Regions from separate parts of the Homo sapiens genome. Here region 2 is linked to region 1. The links come from fine-mapping of genetic effects on gene expression. A gene starts in region 1. The other region holds a variant in brackets. All regions are shown on one strand. Distances are between the middles of the regions.

The links. PIP is the estimated chance that this variant, and not a neighbour inherited with it, causes the effect.
Region 2: its variant is fine-mapped to the expression of MICU1 in whole blood (INTERVAL, PIP above 0.99).

Annotation. Positions count from the first base shown.
Region 1 is chr10:72,620,947-72,632,515 of GRCh38, reverse strand. MICU1 (mitochondrial calcium uptake 1) reads left to right here and starts at 6,437. Exons shown (of 12, transcript NM_001195518.2): 1 at 6,437-6,506. RefSeq lists enhancers at 6,433-6,582, 6,133-6,670.
Region 2 is chr10:72,378,415-72,386,414 of GRCh38, reverse strand. The region is part of intron 10 of MICU1 (mitochondrial calcium uptake 1); the gene reads left to right. Among named protein-coding and RNA genes, the nearest start is that of DNAJB12, 27 kb to the right of the region's middle. The variant C/T (reference allele first, on the strand shown) is at 3,036.

The DNA.
Region 1 (11,569 bases):
TTCCTTTCATGATGGTTATTTCACAGAATGCTCCTCAATATGGGTTTGGTTGATATTTCCTCATGATCAGATTCAAGTGATATTGTGTTCTTCTCAGAGTACTATATCATAGGGATCAAAGTGTTGCATAGTTTCTGTTATATAGTTACCATTTCCTTTTGTAAAAAATATAAAATCTGTGGGGAGATGCTTTGAAACATAAAAATACCCTGCTTCTCATAAAATTCCCTGCCCAACCCCTGCCGGATTTAACTGATAATGTTTGCCCAAACCAATCTTTACCATGATAGTTGCAAAATGGTGGTTTTCCCAACTCCACCACTCTCTTTGGATTTATCAGCAAGTAGTCTACTTTAAGGAAAGCCACTGTCTGATTTCCCCATTTCTCTTTCTCTCCTTAATATAGATTGTTGGATTCTTATTTTATTCAGTGGCTGTAACTTACTACTGTTCTTTTTTTTTTTTTCTTTTGAGACAGTCTGGCTCTGTTGCCAGCCTGGAGTGTAGTGGTGTGATCTTGGCTCACTGCAACCTCTGCCTCCTGGGTTCAAACGATTCTCCTGCCTCAGCCTCCCGAGTAGCTGGGACTACAGGCACGCACCACCACACTCAGCTAACTTTTGTATTTTTTTAGTACAGACACGGTTTCACCATGTTGGCCAGGATGGTCTCAATCTCTTAACCTTGTGATATGCCCGCCTCGGCCTCCCAAAGTGCTGGGATTACAGGCGTGAGCCATCCCGCCCAGCCACTTATTACTGTTCTTATGCTGGTACTCCAATTATCCCAGATTTGGCCAGTGATGGGCCTTCAAGCTGGCTCCCTTTGACATGTCCTCATTTTATTTTCTGATTGCTTCCTTACTTTTGGACACAACAAGATGTTCCAGGTCATCTTGTACATTCCTGCTGTAGACTTGAAACCAGCCCTGTTTTCAAGAAGACTTAGTTCCTTTTTGTGGAGAAAGGTAGTTCAGAAATCAAGATCTGGGCAGAGATTCTTTAATTTTGAAGTTAGTTTCAATCATAAAATCAAGGAGAATATGTCAATTTTTATAAATCATCATATTTATGCCATCCTCCCACCTCCTAGTGGTAAAAAGCCAGGAAACATTTAAGCTTTTTTAAAATTTTTTTCATATTTATTTGAACATAATTAATTCTGGCTATAAGTATTAGAGAAGAATACTCACTGCAAGAACAACTATGGGTCATAAGTCTCTAGATAGCTACTCAAGTACAATATAACTTCAAAAAGGTTGGGTGTGGTGGCTCACACCTGTAATCTCAGCACTTTGGGAGGCCAAGGTGGGTGGATCTCTTGAGCCAAGGAGTTCGAGACCAGCCCGGGCAACATAGTGATATGTTGTCTCTACAAAAATTACAAAAAATTAGCCAGGGCTGGTGGTTTGCACCTGTAGTCTCAGCTACTCAGGAGGCTGAGGCGGGAGGATCACTTGAGCCTGGGAGGTTGAGGCTGCAGTGAGCTGAGATGGTGCACTGCATTCCAGCCTGGGCGACAGAGTAAGACTCTAAGACTCTCTGTCTCTTTGTTTCTCTGTCTCTGTCTCTGATATATATATTCAAAAGGAGTTTGTGATGGACGACTGCATAGGTTTTGAGATACCATAATCTATGGAACCCTGAAGATAAGTGTAATAAAACAAAGACCATCTCATTGAATTCATTTTAAAGAAACTGAATGAAAGCTTTAGAAAATAAACTTTTTGTAGTCTGATACTTGTTGCAAAAGATGTTTTTGTTTTTTACAGTGGTGTGATATGTTGGAGACTGCTGTGGTAACACATATTATTTTAATGTGATAAGAATAGATGAACTATAAAATGTATGACATAAGGACACCAATTTCTATTTTTAGTGAATGACATTAAATACTGTCCCTTGATAACACAGATCTTTCAACACAACACACTTTTGAAATACTGAAGATGAAATAAATAAACATTATATTTTGCATATGATAGTATGATAGTCCTGGGGGCAAAGATCAAATCTATTTGTCAAGTATACAGGACTTAGTATTCATTCCCAATCCTATCATTGCAGGGGAATCACCTGGGACTTTTAAAATCCAGATTCCAGAGCATCACCCTGGTTCACTGAAGCAGTGTGTCTCATGATCCAAGAATCTGTATTTTAAAAATCTCCTCAGATAATTCCCAGGCATTTGATCACCAGACTGGTTTGGGAACTACTGAACTTGTTAAAAAATACATTTTTACGGTGGTGCAAGTCTCATTATAGATACAAGTTGCCCAAGGGCAGGAATCGAGCTTATAAATTTTTACAAGCCCAGCACTAGTTGTGAGCATTACATATATTAATATGTAGGTATTCAATATATGTCTGTGAAAGAATTTTGACTTCAAATTTTATTGGTCACCAGAGGAGTCTTATTATTAGTTTGTACAGGAGATATAAACCTTGATTAGTGATATCATACATTTATATGACTCGGAACACATTGCATAGCATCCTGAAAAACAATACTGAATTGATGGACAGATTTCTAATGTAGAATATAGCTGTGTTTGGTTATGACCTTGAATTCTGCTAACTTACTCTATACTCTTGGAAATGAAGAAGGAGCTAGATGCGGTGGCTCACGCCTGTAATCCAAGCATTATGGGAGGCTGAGGCGGGTGGATCACGAGGTCAGGAGTTCGAGACCAGCCTGGCCAAAATGGTGAAACCCCATCTCTACTAAAAACACAAAAATTAGCCAGGCATGGTGGCGCATGCCTGTAATCCCAGCTACTCAGGAGGCTGAGGCAGGAGAATCACTTGAACCTGGGAGGTGGAGGTTGCAGTGAGCCAAGATTGTGCCACTGCACTCTAGCCTGGGTGACACAGCAAGACTCCGTCTCAAAAAAAGAAAAAAAAAAAGAAATGAAGAAAGAATACTCACATCTCATATTTATTTGTATAAGATTGGCCTAGTCTGTAAATTGTCTCTGTCTTGTTCTCCTTTCCATTAAATGTTCTACTTGATGCCAAAATGACTAGACAAAATATACAATAGCATTTAACATTTGTATGGTTTAAAACAGTGGTTCTCAAAGTGTGGTCAAAGACCACTGGAGGTTTCCTGAAACCCTTTCTAGTAATCTGTAAGGTCAAGACTGTTTTCTTACTAATACACTGTTATTTGCCTTATCGCTCTAATTCTTTCTTGAGTATATAGTAGAGTTTGCCAGAGGCTACATGAAGTGTAAGAGTGCAAACATTTAATGCAGAAAAGATACAAGAATCTGTCTTCTATTAAGCCAGACATTAAAGAAATTTGCAGCCGGGCACAGTGGCTCATGCCTGTAATCCCAGTACTTTGGGAGGACGATGTGGGCGGATCACGAGGTCAGGGGTTTGAGACCGGCCTGATCAACATGGTGAAACCCCGTCTCTACTAAAAATACAAAAAAATTAGCCGGGCGTGGTGGCATGCGCCTGTAATCCCAGCTACTCAGGAGGCTGAGGCAGGAGAATCACTTGAAACCGGGAAGCAGAGGTTGCAGTGAGCCGAGATCGTGCCACTGCACTCCAGCCTGGGCGACACAGTGAGACTCTGTCTCAAAAAAAAAGAAAAGAAATTTGCAATAATGTAAAACCATGCTACTCTTTTTTTTTGAAGTTGTTTTTCTTAAGAATACATTATTTATGTCAACATATAATGGATCTATTATTTTTAAATGACTAAGTACACATTAAAATAATTTCAATTTTAATTTTCTTTCTTTTCTCTTTTTTTTTTTTGAGACTGAGTCTTGCTCTGTCACTGAGGCCTAGGCTGGAGTGCAGTGGCATGATCCTGGCTCACTGCAACCTCTGTCTACCGGATTCAGGCGATTCTCCTACCTCAGCCTCCTGAGTAGCTGGGATTACAGGCGTGTGCCACCATGCCTGGCTAATTTTTGTATTTTTAGTAGAGATAGGGTTTCACCATGTTGGCCAAGATGGTCTCGAACTCATGACCTCAGGTGATCTGCCGCCTCTGCCTCCCAAAGTGCTGGGTGCCATTGTACCCGGCCTCAATTTTAAGTCCTCATATGCTAAATTAAAAAAAGTTTATAGAGACAGGTTCTTGCGCTGTTGCGCAGGCTGGAGTGCAGTGGCATGATCATAGCTCACTGTAGCCTCAAAGTCCTAGCCTCACGTGATCATCCCATCTCAGTCTCTCAAAATGCTGAGATTATAGGTATTAGCCTCTGCCTGGCCGAATATGGTAAATATCGATAGGTATAACACACATAAATAAAAGTTATTTTGAGTCCTCAATAATTTTTAAGTGTATAGGGGTCCTAAGACCAAAACGTTTGAGAAACAATGATTTATGTTTTTAAATGTTATTTAACAGTTAGTTTGACTGATTAGTTTTATATAGACAAATGTTGCCTAAAATTAGAATTGAATTTCAGCAAATCTTTCTTTCTTTTTTTGAGACGGAGTCTCGCTTTGTCGCCCAGGCTGGAGTGCAGTGGCACGATCTTGGCTTACTGCAAGCTCTGCCTCCCGGGTTCCTGCCATTCTCCTGTCTCAGCCTCCCGAGTAGCTGGGACTACAGGCGCCCGCCACCACGCCTGGCTAATTTTTTGTATTTTTAGTAGAGACAGGGTTTCACCGTGTTAGCCAGGATGGTCTCGATCTCCTGACCCGCCCGCCTCAGCCTCCCAAAGTGCTGGGATTACAGGCGTGAGCCACCGCGCCCGGCCTGAATTACATCATTTAAGAGTGGAAGCCTCAGAGGCCTTCAGGTCAGGTCTATGTCCCGCTACTGCATGTACTGCATTACCTAGGGGTGTCAGCCTGCTTCCCTATCTGCAAATGAATAAAACAGTATCCATCCTAGAGTGGTTGTAGACAAGCACTGGGTTGTATGTAAAGCGCTAGCACAGAGCCATGAACACAATCATCTATTGTACTTAGGTTAGTTGGGTCTGAGAAGAAATGGAGAAAACAGAGTTGATTCTGCTTACTTCACAATTTACCCCAGGGATGGTTTTGTTGGCTTTGTTTCCATGGTTGTTGCCTTTTCCACAGCTCTGCTACGTAAATTCTTGGGAAAAAAAAATTATTTGAAAGTTCTCTGGGACCAGCGAGGTGGCTCGCACTTGTTAATCCCAGCACTTTGGGAAGCCGAGACGGGAGGATCGCCCGAGGTCAGGAGTTTGAGACTAGCCTGCCCAACATGGCGAAACCCCGTCTGTACTAAAAATACAAAAATTAGCCGGGCGTGGTGGGGCGTGCCTGTAATCTCAGCTACTCGGGAGGCTGAGGCAGAAGAATCACTTGAACCTGGGAGGAGGATGTTGCAGTGAGCATCACTGCACTCCAACCTGGGCGACAGTGCGAGACTCCGTCTCAAAACAAACGAACAAACAACCAACCAACACCCCGCTGCCCCCCCCCCAAAAAAATTCTCTGGTATTATAGTCATATTTCCATCCTATTTCCACAGCAGGGGTGAGGATCCTTTGCCATCCCATTTTTCTGATAAAAACACCTTCTTCAGCCGGGCGCAGTGGCTCACGCCTGTAATCCTCGCACTTTGGGAGGCCGAGGTGGGCGGATCACCTGAGGTCGGGCGTTCCAGACCAGCCTGACCAACATGGAAAAACCCCGTCTCTACCAAAAATACAAATTAGTAGGGCGTGGTGGCGCATGCCTGTAATCCCAGCTACTTGGGAGGCTGAGGCAGGAGAATCGCTTGAACCCAGGAGGCAGAGATTGCAGAGAGCCGAGATCGCTCCACTGCACTCCAGCCTGGGCATCAAGAGTGAAACTCTATCTCAAAACAAACAAACAAACAAACAAACAAAAAACACATTCTTCAAGGGAAAACATGTTTTTAAGTGGCTTCTAGAGATTATAAACTCTGCAATAATATTAGTCTGCAAATAAAACACCTGACAAAATCATCCACCAGAGGAAGTGGTGAGGGTTTCTAAATCCAAAAAAGTCTCAAGGTTATGAAACAGGAACATTTAATCTCTGAGAAAACCTAAACGGAGTTGGAAAGAAACAATTTCCAACTCACTGTGGTCCAGTTTTCTTTTCACGAACTCCTTTTTGCTTAGCCAACATAGCCAACACGAAAACGGGTACCGAGGAGGTGTTACAAGCCACAGTAAATTTCTCAACAGATTCCTATGACCCTTGTGGAGGGGAAAAAAACCAGAAGAAATGCCCGAGAGCTTCTGGGAGCTCTCCAGCTTTCCCGCCTAAACGCTGAGGGGAGTAAGGGGGAGTGACGGGGCTAGGGCGGGGCCCGAGGCTGGGGCGTGGCGCGTTGATTTCCCCGCCCCTCCCCGTTCCTTTTCCTCTGTGCCCCTCCCACACGCCTGTCTCCACGATCCCGACAGGCCCAGCGGCTAGGAGAGTCACGTGAGAGTGGGCGGAGGGGGTGGAGGTTTGTCTCCGCTGTTTCATCTCTATGGCTGTCAGAGGTGGGCGGCTTTGACCGAGAGGCTGCTGGAGCTCGTGTTTGGACGCGTGAGTCTTGGACTCTGGAGGGTATAAGGAGACAGCAATTTAGGGAAGGCGAAGGGGAAGGGGGTTGGCGAGACAGCCTTAGGGAACTGGGCTTCGTGGCTGGCCGTTTGTCCGCCCCGGGCATCCGGCTACTTCTCGGGTCTGGCGGGATACCTGTCTCTCCCTGATGCGCTCAGCTTTTGGAGAGGAGTCCGTAGTCTTGCTTGCCTCCCGTCCTCCACTTTCCTTCACCCCAACCCGTCCCTTCTCCCGTCCCGGGAGAACTTCTCCCAGTGCCGGGTTCGCAACTTGGCGCCGACGCCCCCCTCCTCACAGGCGACTGGGACACTCTGGTAGCCTTGACTGGCTCTCCTGGAATTTGTGGATGTGGTTAGAAGTGGGTGCGGGAGTTCACAGATGGATTTCTAATACGGAGAAATATTAACCACTGAATCGAAATAAGTGGAAAATCAGTGAGGACTCAAAGGAGAAATACAAAGTGCAGGCTACTCGGACTGTTCAGTTTTTATCTTTTCCAGCGCCTTCCCGTTTTCATTACGTTCTCCCTGTTTTGTTTTCACCGTCGCATTCTGGCCGGCCATAGGCTGTTTTGAGAAAGAGCTAGATGTTATTGACTCTATGTGAATGTTGGGAGAACAGTTTAAAACAAACTGTTCTTCAAGTTGCCTTCTCTGTAATCTTATGGTTGATGGTTTCTTTACCTTCCAATTTTCCATGTCTTAAAAAATACGGTGGCCATTAGTAAATATAAGTAGAATAAATATCTTATAGCTAAGGGACTAGAGTAAAATATTTTATTTTTCCTGTGGTACCTTAGAAACGCCCATTTTCTTCCTATTTATCAATAAATGTTTCTATCTCACTTGTTTGGGTGGCTTCTTTGATATGCCTTTGTTTATATTAGAACATCCCTTTGGGGCACGTAGGGAAGTGATCGAGCAGTATAAGAAAGGAGTTTGCATTTCATGAGGTGAAACAAGTTCGGTGTGGATAGCTGTAGGAGAGTTTAGGTTTCATTGGACCATATGACAAATAATAAACGTCAGTATCTTGAGACAAAGGTGTTGGCCAGAATGACCCACCTACTGTGTTTCTGGTGTGGACCAGGTAATGAGCTTTTTGAATATTGCCTTATCCTAAAAACTTTAGAACCCATTGCCACTTGTCTGTAGGAAGGTGGCTTTTGCCTCCAGCTACTCTTTGTCCCAATCCTTGGTTTGTCCCTGATTGTCTCTTCCACTTAAGAACATCACTCTGGCTACCTAATATATCAAGCAAGTGTCTCTGACATCTTCTGAGTGTCCTTACTGAGAGCCATAAAACATAATATTAACAAAAAGTGAATATTCTGGAGTGGCTTGTGTGCCTGAGGAGAAAGGGAAAGAATGATAGAAACTAATAGAAGCTAATAAATGCAAGAGAACAAAAGTGTTTATTGCTGTCTTCCTTTATATTTACTATATTCAGTAGATTGTTTACATTCCTAAGAAGTGCATCTTGAGACTAACTTTCCTGTGTTTAAGAATAAAACAGGCTGGGTGTGGTGTCTCAGGCCCATAATCCCAGCAATTTGGGAGGCCGGGTGGATCCCTTGAATCTAGGAGTTTGAGACCAGCCTGGGCAATATGGCAAGACCATCTCTACAAAACACAAAAATTAGCTGGGCGCATGCCTGTAGTCCTGGCTACTTGGGAGGCTGAGACAGGAGGATGGCTTGAGCCCTCGAGGTTGAGGCTGCAGTGAGCTGTGATCGTACCATTGCACTCCAGCTTGGGCGACAGAGCGATACCCTGTCTCTTAAAACAACAACAAAAGAATAAAACGATATGAAATTTCTCCATAATGCAATATTATGCAAAATAATTATAATTGAAATATTTAACTGACCAACTCCTTCAGATCTTATGCTATTCAGAGTTATAGGACTAATATAATTGATAAAGCTTTTTTAAACCCAATTTTGCCACCTTCAGTCTTTAAAGTTAGCTTTATCTCTTGAGCCATTTTTACAATGGCTGCAGCACTTGCTGAACATTAACCATTTTTTCCATATGCAGTTGTTTAGTGTATCCCTTTTAAAATAAGAACCAGTTTTTAATTAATTAATTAATTAATTAAATGGAGATGGGGTTCAGCCATTTTGCCGAGGCTGGTCCTTTTGTTGAGGGGTGGGGACGGAGTCTCATTCTGTTGCCCAGGCTGGAGTGCAGTGGTGTGATCTCGGCTCACTGCAACCTCTGCCTCCTGGGTTCAAGCAATTCTCCTGCTTCAGCCTCCGAAGTAGCTGGAACTACAGGCGCGGCACCACATCTGGCTAATTTTTGTATTTTTAGTAGAGATGGGGTTTTACATGTTGGCCAGGCTAGTCTCGAACTCCTGACGACCTCAGGTGATCCACCTGCCTCGGCCTCCCAAAATGCTGGGATTACAGGCCTGAGCCACCACACCTGGCCTACCCAGGCTAGTCTTGGAACTCCCAGACTCAAGCGATCCTCCCGCCTTGGCCTCCCAAAGTTCTGGGATTGCAGGTACAAGCCACCATGCCTAGCCACTAGAACCAGTTTTTTTAAAAAGGTTTACTCAACTGTTTTTTCCACACATATTTTCTTTTTCTTTCTTTTCTTTTCTTTTTTTCTTTCTTCTCCCTTTCTTTCTCCCTCCCCTCCCCTTCCCTTTTCTTTTCTTGTCTTTTTTTTTTTTTTTTTTTTTGAGACGGAGTCTCGCTCTGTCTTGTCTTTTTGACAGAGTTTCACTCTCGTTGCCAAGGCTACAGTGCAATGGCGCGATTTTGGCTCACTGCAACCTCTGCCTCCGGGGTTCAAGTGATTCTTCTGCCTCATCCTCGTAAGTAGCTGGGATTACAGGAGCGTGCGCCACCACGCCCGGCTAATTTTTGTATTGTTAGTAAAGATGGGGTTTTACTATGTTGGCCAGGCTGGTCTCGAACCCCTGACCTCAAGTGATCCGCCCGCCTCAGCCTCCCAAATTGCTGGGATTAGAGGTGTGAGCCACTGTACCTGGCCTCCCACTCATAATTTAAAAATGAAAATATTGTAATAGCTTTATTTTGTGCCAGGAGAAGAAGGTGATTGTTTTTAGATGGATATTCTATGTGCTTTGGTAAATTATGAGAAAATTGTTAATACTTTTAAGATATTGAAATATGAATAAGCATGTTTGAGAAGAAAACACGGGCAATATTTTTAAACATTTTAAATTTCCTATTATTGAAGTAATATGCTTATTTTTGGAAAATGGAAACATTATCGAAAATACAATATTGAAAGTCAAAGTCCTAATTTATCTTTTCTCTTACTACCAGGTAACCACTAGTTCCCTTTGCATATTTGGGATTCAGTGTGGAAAAGTAAGGCTTTGGAGTCAGATTCCCTGGGAAAGATTGTAATACCAGCACTAGGCTTACTTCCTTCAACCTCAGAAACCCAAGAAGAAAGAGAATTTCCCTTTCTCTACAGTTCCAGCGCACCACTGTATGGTAGTTTCATTGACCTGACTTGGGTCTTTGCCCATCCTAGAGGCAGTCCCTGTGGCCAGAGTGATGGAATGCTTTGTGTGGCTAGGCTTGGAATTTGTCCCTATCCTGGAGTGGGAAGGAGAGGAATATAGTTTGAAACCATTTGAGTTAAGGGTGGGTGACAGTTCCTAAAGAAAAATTGAGGTGATGCTTTCTGGAGAAGAGCAATTGGTTGCTGGACAGGCAAAAACAACAGATGTTCACTAAAATAATTTTCATGTTTTTTTTTTTTTTTTAATTAAGAGAACTTGGGGCCGGGCGCGGTGGCTCACGCTTGTAATCCCAGCACTTTGGGAGGCTGAGGCCGGCAGATCACGAGGTCAGGAGATCGAGACCATCCTGGCTAACATGGTGAAACCCCGTTTCTACTAAAAAAACAAACATACAAAAAATTAGCCGAGTGTGGTGGCAGGCGCCTGTAGTCCCAGCTACTCCGGGGAGGCTGAGGCAGGAGAATGGCGTGAACCTGGGAGGCAGAGCTTGCAGTGAGCTGAGATCGTGCCACTGCACTCCAGCCTGGGCGACAGAGCAAGATTCTGGCTCAATAAATAAATAAATAAATAAGAGAACTTGGTTTCCTTTTGCAATATAAAAAATTGTATTTACAGTTTATGTGTTGATTTTTTTCTATTTTTAATGCCTATTATAATCACTTAAAGAACTTGAAAAAATTTACACTCTTCCAGTGTGTGTATCTGTACTGTTATTACATGTTTAGTACCCCTGCTCTGGAATATTCAGGTTTTATAACTTTAAATATATTATGTATTAGCCAGCTTGTTAAAATAAATTCTTGATATTTTTATTGCTTTGGGTGAACTTGATTAGTAACTGCAGTTAATAAATAGTAAATAAAAATGTTTTAAATATTTAAATACATGTTGTGGATATGATTAAATACTTGGTTCTTTTCATTGTTTTATGTTTAAAAATCTGTTAGTATAGAAACCACTTTATTTTTTTATTATTATTATTATTTTTTGAGACGGAGTTTTACACTTGTCGCCCAGGCTGGAGTGCAATGGCGCGTTCTTGGCTCACTGCAACCTCCGCCTCTTGGGTTCAAGCAATTCTCCTGCCTCAGCCTCCCAAGTAGCTGGGATTACAGGCACCTACCACCACGGCTGGCTATTTTTTTTTTGTATTTTAAGTAGAGATGGGGTTTCACCATGTTGGTCAGTCTGGTCTCGAACTCCTGACCTCAGGTGATCTGCTAGCCAAAGTGCTGGGATTATAGGCGTGAGCCACTGCGCCCATCCAAAACCACTTTATTTTGAACGTGGTATGTAAAATAAATTACCATAATTATAACTAATTGCTATTACTGGGTGTTAACTTTAAAATTATAATTAACACTAGTTTTGTATCTTTATGCCTTATTCTGGTGGTTCATCATTAAAACAATTTTTTTTTCTGTAGAAACGGGGTCTCACTATGTTGCCCAGGGTGGTCTCAATCTCCTGGGTTCAAGCATTCCGCCTGCCTTGGCTTCCCAAAATATGGGGATTACAGGCATGAGCCACCATGC
Region 2 (8,000 bases), 240 kb after region 1:
AGGTCAGGAGTTCAAGACGAGCCTGGCCAACATGGGGAAACCCCGTCTCTACTAAAAATACAAAAATTAGCCTGGTGTGGTGGTGGGCACCTGTAATCCCAGCTACTCAGAAGGCTAAGGTGGGATAATTGTTTGAACCCGGGAGGCAGAGGTTGTAGTGAGCCAAGATCACGCCACTGTACTCCAGCCTGGGCGACAGAGCGAGACTCCGTCCCCCTCCAAAAAAAAAAGACATTCCCAATCATAAATGCCTTCCCCACTGGCCAGTTTCTGTGATTCAGAGTGTTGGCACAGCATAGCTGGGTTCTCTGCTTAGGATCTTAACAAGGATGAAATCGCAGTGTTGTTGGGGGGCCTTCATTTTCATCCGGAGTTCAGGGTCCTCTTCAAAGTTCTTTCCTGCTGTTGGCAGAATTCAGGTCCTTTCAGTTGTAGGACCAAGGATTCCTTTTCCTTGCTGGCTGTTGGCCAGTCATTGCTCTCAGCAGGTGACTACAGCTCCTTGCCACCAGGCCCCTCACAGCATGGCAACTCACTTCTTCAGAGCCAGCAACAGAATCTCTCGCCTCAGTCTGCTAAGATGGATTCTTACATAACATAGTTATGGGACTGACTAGCCCATCACCTTTCTCATATACAGTAACCTCATCACAGGATTATCGTAGTCACAGGTTCTGCCCACCTGAGGAGAGGGGATTACACAGGATATGTGGACCAGAGGGTGGAAATACTGGGCGGGGGGCACGTCAGAATTCTGCTCAGCACACCAGCCATCATTTTAGAAACCTACACCTTTGGTTTTATTATTCTGAAGATAGGGACATTTAAACTGATTTAAATTTTAGGGCTGGAAGATAACTTAAAAATCATTTTGTTTAAACCCTTACTTTGTTTTTTGGTTTTTTGTTTGTTTGGTTGGTTTTTTTTGAGACAGTCTTGCTCTGTCACCTAGGCTAGAGTGCAGTGGCATGATCTCAGCTCACTACAACCTCCGCCTCCTGGGTTCTAGTGATTCTCCTGTCTCAGCCTCCCAGTTAGCTGGGATTACAGGCACACACCACCACGCCCAGCTAATTTATATATTTTTAGTAGAGACAGGGTTTTACCATGTTGGCCAGGCTGGTCTTGAACTCCTGACCTCAGGTGATCTGCCCAGCTCGGCCTCCCAAAGTGTTGGATTTATAGACGTGAGCCACTGTGCCCGGCCTGCTTGTTTTTAACATTCATAAAGGGAAATGACTTGCTGAAATCACAGACCAGAAGTTCAGGTTCAGCGACTTCCACACCAGGGTTCTCATTAGTACCCTGGCACCTACTGCTGCTAGAAGGACCTAGAGAATTACATCGAGGACTCAATGCTTTTATGTGATGCCGGAAAGTGGGGCAAATTCACAGCAAGAATGTAGGGAGAGCATCCCCCAGACAGCCAAGACATGGCAGGAAGGCAGGAGTGTCACAAAGACATGTAAGGAAGAGATTACAACAGGAAAAAAGCTCCTATTTTATAAATTCTTTTAAAGTTTGTGGGAGGCAAGCTCTTGCACTTCAGTTCATCATTACATTTGGTAAAAACATTTATATGTGAAGAGGAGTGTTGGCCAGGATTCCATTCATTTAAGACAGAGTCATCAATTTTTAAAGTAAAATTATTCATGATGTAGGCAAGGAAGCTCAAATTCTGAAATAAATGTTTGCTTTATGAGGCATTTTCTCTGCAGAGGCCTGGTTTATTTTCCCAAATTTAAAGTCACTTAGCAATTCTAAAGATTGATTCTGGCTTATGATCACTTTGAATATATTATGATTTAGTAAAATTAGGTAAGTGCCCTAAGGAGGAGGAGAGCTGCTTTAGGGATTCATGATTACCATCATGAATTACATCACAAAGAGAAGAGATGGGGGTAGGATAAACTGTTAAAGCATCCACATAAATAGATAAGGAAAGACAAAATCAGCCAACATTACATCCCACTGAGAAAAAGATCAGAAAAAGAATGATTACTAGAATTACATCAATATCGGGAAAGTGTAGAGGGAGTATTTATTATAAGCATTGCTTCTTTGGGGGTTTCAAGGTTTACTACCTTGAGAAGCCTCGGAAGGTTTAATAAGACACTGTGGCTGGGCCCAGTGGCTCATAGCCTATAATCCCAGCACTTTGGGAGGCCAAGGTGGGTGGTTCGCTTGAGCCCAGGAGTTCAAGACCAGCCTGGGCAACATGGTGAAACCCCATCTCTACAAAAAAATACAAAAATTAGCCAGGCATGGTGGCGCGAGCCTGTAGTCCTAGCTACTTCCGAGGCTGAGGCGGGAGGATCATTTGAGCCCAGGATGTTGAGGCTGTGGTGAGCTGTGCCCTCACTACTGCACTCCAGCCTGAGCAACAGAGCAAGACCCTGTCTCAATTAAAAAAAAATTTTTTTTTAATAAAATTGTTTAAAAATGCAAAACCTAGCCAGGTGTGGTAATCCACACCTGTAGTCCCAGTTACTAGGGAGGCTGAGGCGGGAGAATCAGGAGCCCAGGAGGCAGAGGTTGCAGTGAGCCATGATCTTGCCACAGCACTCTAGCCTGAGCAACAGAACCAAGACCCTGTCTCAAAAAAACAAACAAAAAAGACACTTGTAAAGGTGACTATTTAGTCTTTAATTTCAACAAACTGAATTTAAATATATCAGTTACTCTCAGTTTAGCCATCAGAGATTCAGACTCTGTTATAGCTGACCCCCACAGACCACAAAGGAAATAATTTTTTAAAGAGAAGGGGAAAAGGTACCTTCTTCTCAAGATTGAGATAAGAATAAATAAGGAACTGGTTAAATAAACAAGGAAATTATGATCCATCCTGTCAGTGGAATACTATGCAGCTATTGAAGGAAGCTGCTCATGTCCATCTGGAATTATTTCTAAGATATGTTGTTAAGTGAGTAAAGCAAAACAATATTTAGTACACCACCATTTTGTGGGAAAAGGGAAGAAGCGAAGAGTACATATTTGATTTTATATCTACAAAATATTTCTGGGGAAACTAGTGA[C/T]ATTGATTGTCTCTGAATGACTGGGTGACTGGGGTATAAGGTTGGGAGAGAGACTTCACCCCTTTTGTACCATTCAAATTTTGAAGCAGATGACTATATTAGCGAATCAAAAACATCTTTTTTTTTTTTTTTTTGAGACAGGGTCTTGCTCTGTTGCCTAGGTTGGAGTACAGTTGTGCAGTCATAGCTCACTGCAGACTTGAACTCCTGGGCTCAGGTAATCCTCCCACCTCAGTTTCCCAAGTAGCTAGGACTGCAGGAGCGCACCATCGTGCCCAACTAATGTTTTTTAAAATTTTTCGTAGAGATGAGGTCTTCCTCTATTGCCCAGGCTGGTCTCATTCTTGGCCTCCCAAACCACTAGGATTATAAGCATGAGCCACTGCACCTGTCCTAATTAAAAACAACTTTTAAAATAAAGCTAACAGAATGAATATTTAAACAATGTGAGAGGGAAAAGCAAGTTACTATTGGACGGAGGCTTGCTCTGTCGCCCAGGCTGGAGTGCAGTGGCGTGATCTTGGCTCACTGCAGCCTCCGCCTCCCGGGTTCAAGTGATTCCCTTGCCTCAGCCTCCTGAGTAGCTGGGATTACAGGCATGTGCCACCACGCCTGGCTAATTTTTGTATTTTTAGTAGAGACGGGGTTTCGCCATGTTGGCCAGTCTGGTCTTGAATTCCTAAGCTCGGGTGATCTGCCTGCCTTGGCCTCATAAAGTGCTGGGATTACAGGCGTGAGCCACCACACTTGGCCTGTTTTAAAGACTTTCTTGCAAGGAGACTTGACTAGTCCTCTGTAAGATTTCTCCTAATGTACTCACCCCCTGCACCTTCTGTTCTAACTCTCTAATCAGGCCTTAGCACTCCTTCCTGCTTTTAATACTGTATTCAAACAGAAACCCCCAACCCACATCACTCACTACCATACATGCGCAGTTGGTCTCTTTTCTCCCTTAGAATTCAGATACAGGCCAGGCGCGGTGGCTCATGCCTGTAATCCCAGCACTTTGGGAGGTCAAGGCGGGTGGATCACCTGAGGTCAGGAGTTCGAGACCAGCCTAGCCAACATGGCGAAACCCTGTCTCTACTAAAAAAAAAAAAAAATTAGCCGGACGTGGTGGCAGGCACCTGTAATCCCAGCTACTAGGGAGGCTGAGGCAGGAGAATCACTTAAACCCGGGAGGCGAGGTTGCAATGAGCCGAGATCGCACCACTGCACTCCAGCCTGGGCGACAGAGCAAGACTGTCTCAAAAAAAAAAAAGAATTCAGATCCAAAATGTAACTCGTACCAAATACACACTATTCCATTATTTCCCATATGTGTGTATTAATATATCTGATATCTGTCTCTTCTACGTGTTTCTCCATCTTAATGTGTGTGTGTGTGTGTGTGTGTGTGTGTGTGTGTGTGTGTGTATAGATATATATATACACAGTCTCCTCCACCAAACTGTGATTGTCCCATGGGTGTGTCAGCTGAAATCATTGACTACCTAATGATGCTTGCAGAAATGCTAGCCCTTTGTGGAAAAGATGTGATGGGGATTTTTAATAAACCCAGATACAATACTAGACAATGGCAATAAATCTTACTGCCAAGTTAGTTTGTACCAAATTAAGCGTGTAAGCCCATTGAAGCCATCATCTGGGATGATGCGCTCAGGCTCAGAAAACAGATCTTCTCCGTGGTGTGTCCTGGAAGTTAGGAGCTAGGATTAGCAGCATCACCTCTGACAGTCAGGCAGCCTGAGTACACAGGGGGTCAGCGGGCATAGGGCCTAAGAGCACCGTACAGAACAAGGAATTGTTATCATTTCCATTACTTGTAGGCTGCATTGCTCTTGGCTCCTTAAATTGCTAGTTCTCCTAAATGTTGTCGTTTCCCCTCCCCTCACCCCAGAACTAGGTTAAAATGTGCATTTGTATTAACAAAAGCTCATGGAAGGAGATACAAAAGACAGGACACATGCTCTTTAAGGAAATATCCTCCCCCTTGTTCCACCCAAAGCCATCTAGGGATGGACTTAAGAAAACAAGACATCTGCATCAGCCTTTCCAGGGCTGAAGCAGAACCATCTCCCCTCACTTAACCTTGGCCATCACCAGTCAGCTTTTGATTTTCTCCACTGCAGTCCGGTAAGGCAGGAATAGTACATGGCCACACAGCTTAGAGACTGTCAGCCCAACTTGTCATACCACCTTTCCAAACACTTTTGCATTAGGAAGAGGCAGGTAGCTCCTAACTGGGTCATGCTGCCTAAAGCTGTATCTGTGCATCAGAGGCAGCTGTGGAGAAAAACTCCCAGGGCCACATTCGTTACATGTGCTTTTCGTTGGATTGCTGTTGAATACACTTTTTAAGTTGTCCCTAAAATTGTCGGTATGAGTTCCTAGGGAATACTCAGTGTCTTCCACTGTAGGGGGTAGTCAGATCCACGGCCAACCTATAATTAATGCTGGTGCCTCACAACTCCCAGTTATTCAATTATTCATTCATCCCTCACCAAAAGGACTTGAGTATTTCCCATGTGACTTTTCTTTAATCTAAACCCTTTCTCCTCAGGGTGACAGATTCATGTCATGGAGGAATTGATATTGTCCATATATGGAAGGGATCATGTGGACCCAGTGTGTATAGGGAAAGGGCACCAGCCAAAATTCGAGACCCAGCTCTGTTACCATCTAGCATTGTGACCCTGGGCAAATTATTTAACGTCACATTTCCTCTGAGGTATCTTCCAGTTCTAAGATTCTCTGATTCCAAGTGGACATTTGGGCTCTCATCACTTCAGAGCTCTTCTGTTTAACTATTGTGGTGAATAGATTTATGTATGTAGTTTCTGATATTATATCACACAAACTCAGGGTTTCTTTTTACTGTTGAAACAGCCAGTCATGAATCATGCTGGAGAGTAAATTGGGGACCTGACACAACTCGGATTCTGCCTGGACTTTGCAAAAAGCCAGATGGTGCCAGATTTTTGAGTACTAGTTGAGCCCACTTCTACAAATTCTCTCCCATCCCAATCTAATAGGAATCACCCAATCGCACTTAAACCCTTTGTTCAGGCAGCTGGGCCAGATTTGTACAAAAATACGTAGTATTTAGAAAGCTAGGCCTTCGCTGGGGTGCCTTCATGCTCCCTGTAGACATCTTTCAGATTGGGAGCTGGAATCCCAACCATCAGTCAGCATCATCAAATAGGGAGGCCAGAATTCCAGTACCAACAACTGGTCTGCATAAAAAAGTTGAGATCTGGGAGGAAAACTTGTTCTGCTTGCTGTGATTATGACTGGATTCAGAGATATTGGAAGCAAATATGAATGAACCAACTCTCAGGACCAGCTGTCAAGCACTTGGCTTGTAATCTGCCGTCATCCCACTCATCCCAGGTGCTCCTAGTTTGACAGCTCACCAGCTATTAAATGTTGGCTTCCTGCACGACTCTGATTCATACCCCAGGGGCCTATAATGAGGATCTTGTACCAGGAAAGGGGACCCCAGCTAGGCTGTTTGCTGGCTAACATCCCAGTGGTTTGGGCTACAATAACTTAGCAGCCCTAGTTCTTCCTCCTATGGTAGGAAGGACACCAGAGCCCTCTCCATGTGAGATGGAACATAATCTATAACTTTCTGTGAAGAGATGGCATCTGTAATGAGGCATTCTTGCTGGAGGCCTCCAGAAGTCCCTATTCTACAACCACTTAATACCAATTTAATGAGCCTCTCATTAGAAATTGTCAAGAGCTCTCACTGACATCCTTGAGTATTATTTAATTAATGGTTTATTTACAGGAAAGGGCACCATCTTCATGGGGAGAAGATGAGTACTTGAAATATCAAGACAATTGCAGAAGGCTGTGCCCTGAGAGAATGGAAGAACTGGGAAAGAGAAAAGGAAGTCAGAAGCTTAAGGTTGATGTGAAATGCAGAAAAAGGAATGGTTAACAGAAAGTGTTCATGTTTATCTAATACAGAACAGGTTCCGATCCCCTTCTCAGGACACATTTCTGTGGCAGCAAAGAGTAAAGCTGTAGGCAATCACAGTTTAAGCGCTTCCAGTTCCTTCTGATCTCATTCTGTTTTCACTGAGTAATCTTTTGAGGTTAATCTTCTGAGGTGAATGGGGTTTCCTTAGTAGCTTTCCTACTGAGAAGTATAATGACCAGCTGTCATCATTGTAGTTCTCTTAACAGTTACTATTCTTATTGCAAATTGGCCTGATTTCTGTTCCTTCTGTGGACAGTTTAGTTAGCAGGAATAAGTTTTTCCTGAGCCAAATCAAGTATCTAGATTTGTGAGGCTAAATTTCTAAACTCTAGAGCGCTATAGTCTTGTAGATTTCCCAACACACATCTCATGAATATCCACCACAATATCTTATACTTCAGTCTTTTAGTACCAAAGAATGTTAATTTCCTCTTCACCCTAACTCAGATCCTGGGAGAAAAGATGGGATATTTCCACCCCAACCTCACCCTCAGATTCTAGATGACACCAATAAACCCTTCTTTGTGCTAGTAAGCCGCCTCAGCAGTTGTCTGGTGGCATCCCTCCACTTGAACATGAGAAAATTAAATCTAAAGAGATCAAGTGACTCCATCCGGGTCACACAGCACGTTGGTGGTGGGGCCAGAACTGGAGCCCAGGTCCCGTTACTCCAAGCCTTGTTTTCTACCGCATTACCTTGCTCCTCTGCATTGCTCCAGTGTTTGCATCTGCTGATGTTGGGGGCACTGTGGTGATGTATTAATTAATTCTTGCATTGCTATAAAGAACTACCTGAGACTGGGTAATTTATAAAGAAAAGAGGCTTAATTGGCTCACAGTTCCACAGGCTGTAAAGGAAGCATGGCTGAGGAGGCCTCAGGAAACTTACAATCCTGGTGAAAGGCGAAGAGGAAGGAGGCACGTCTCACATGGCCAGAGCAGGAGGAAGAGAGAGAGGTGGGAGGTGCCACACA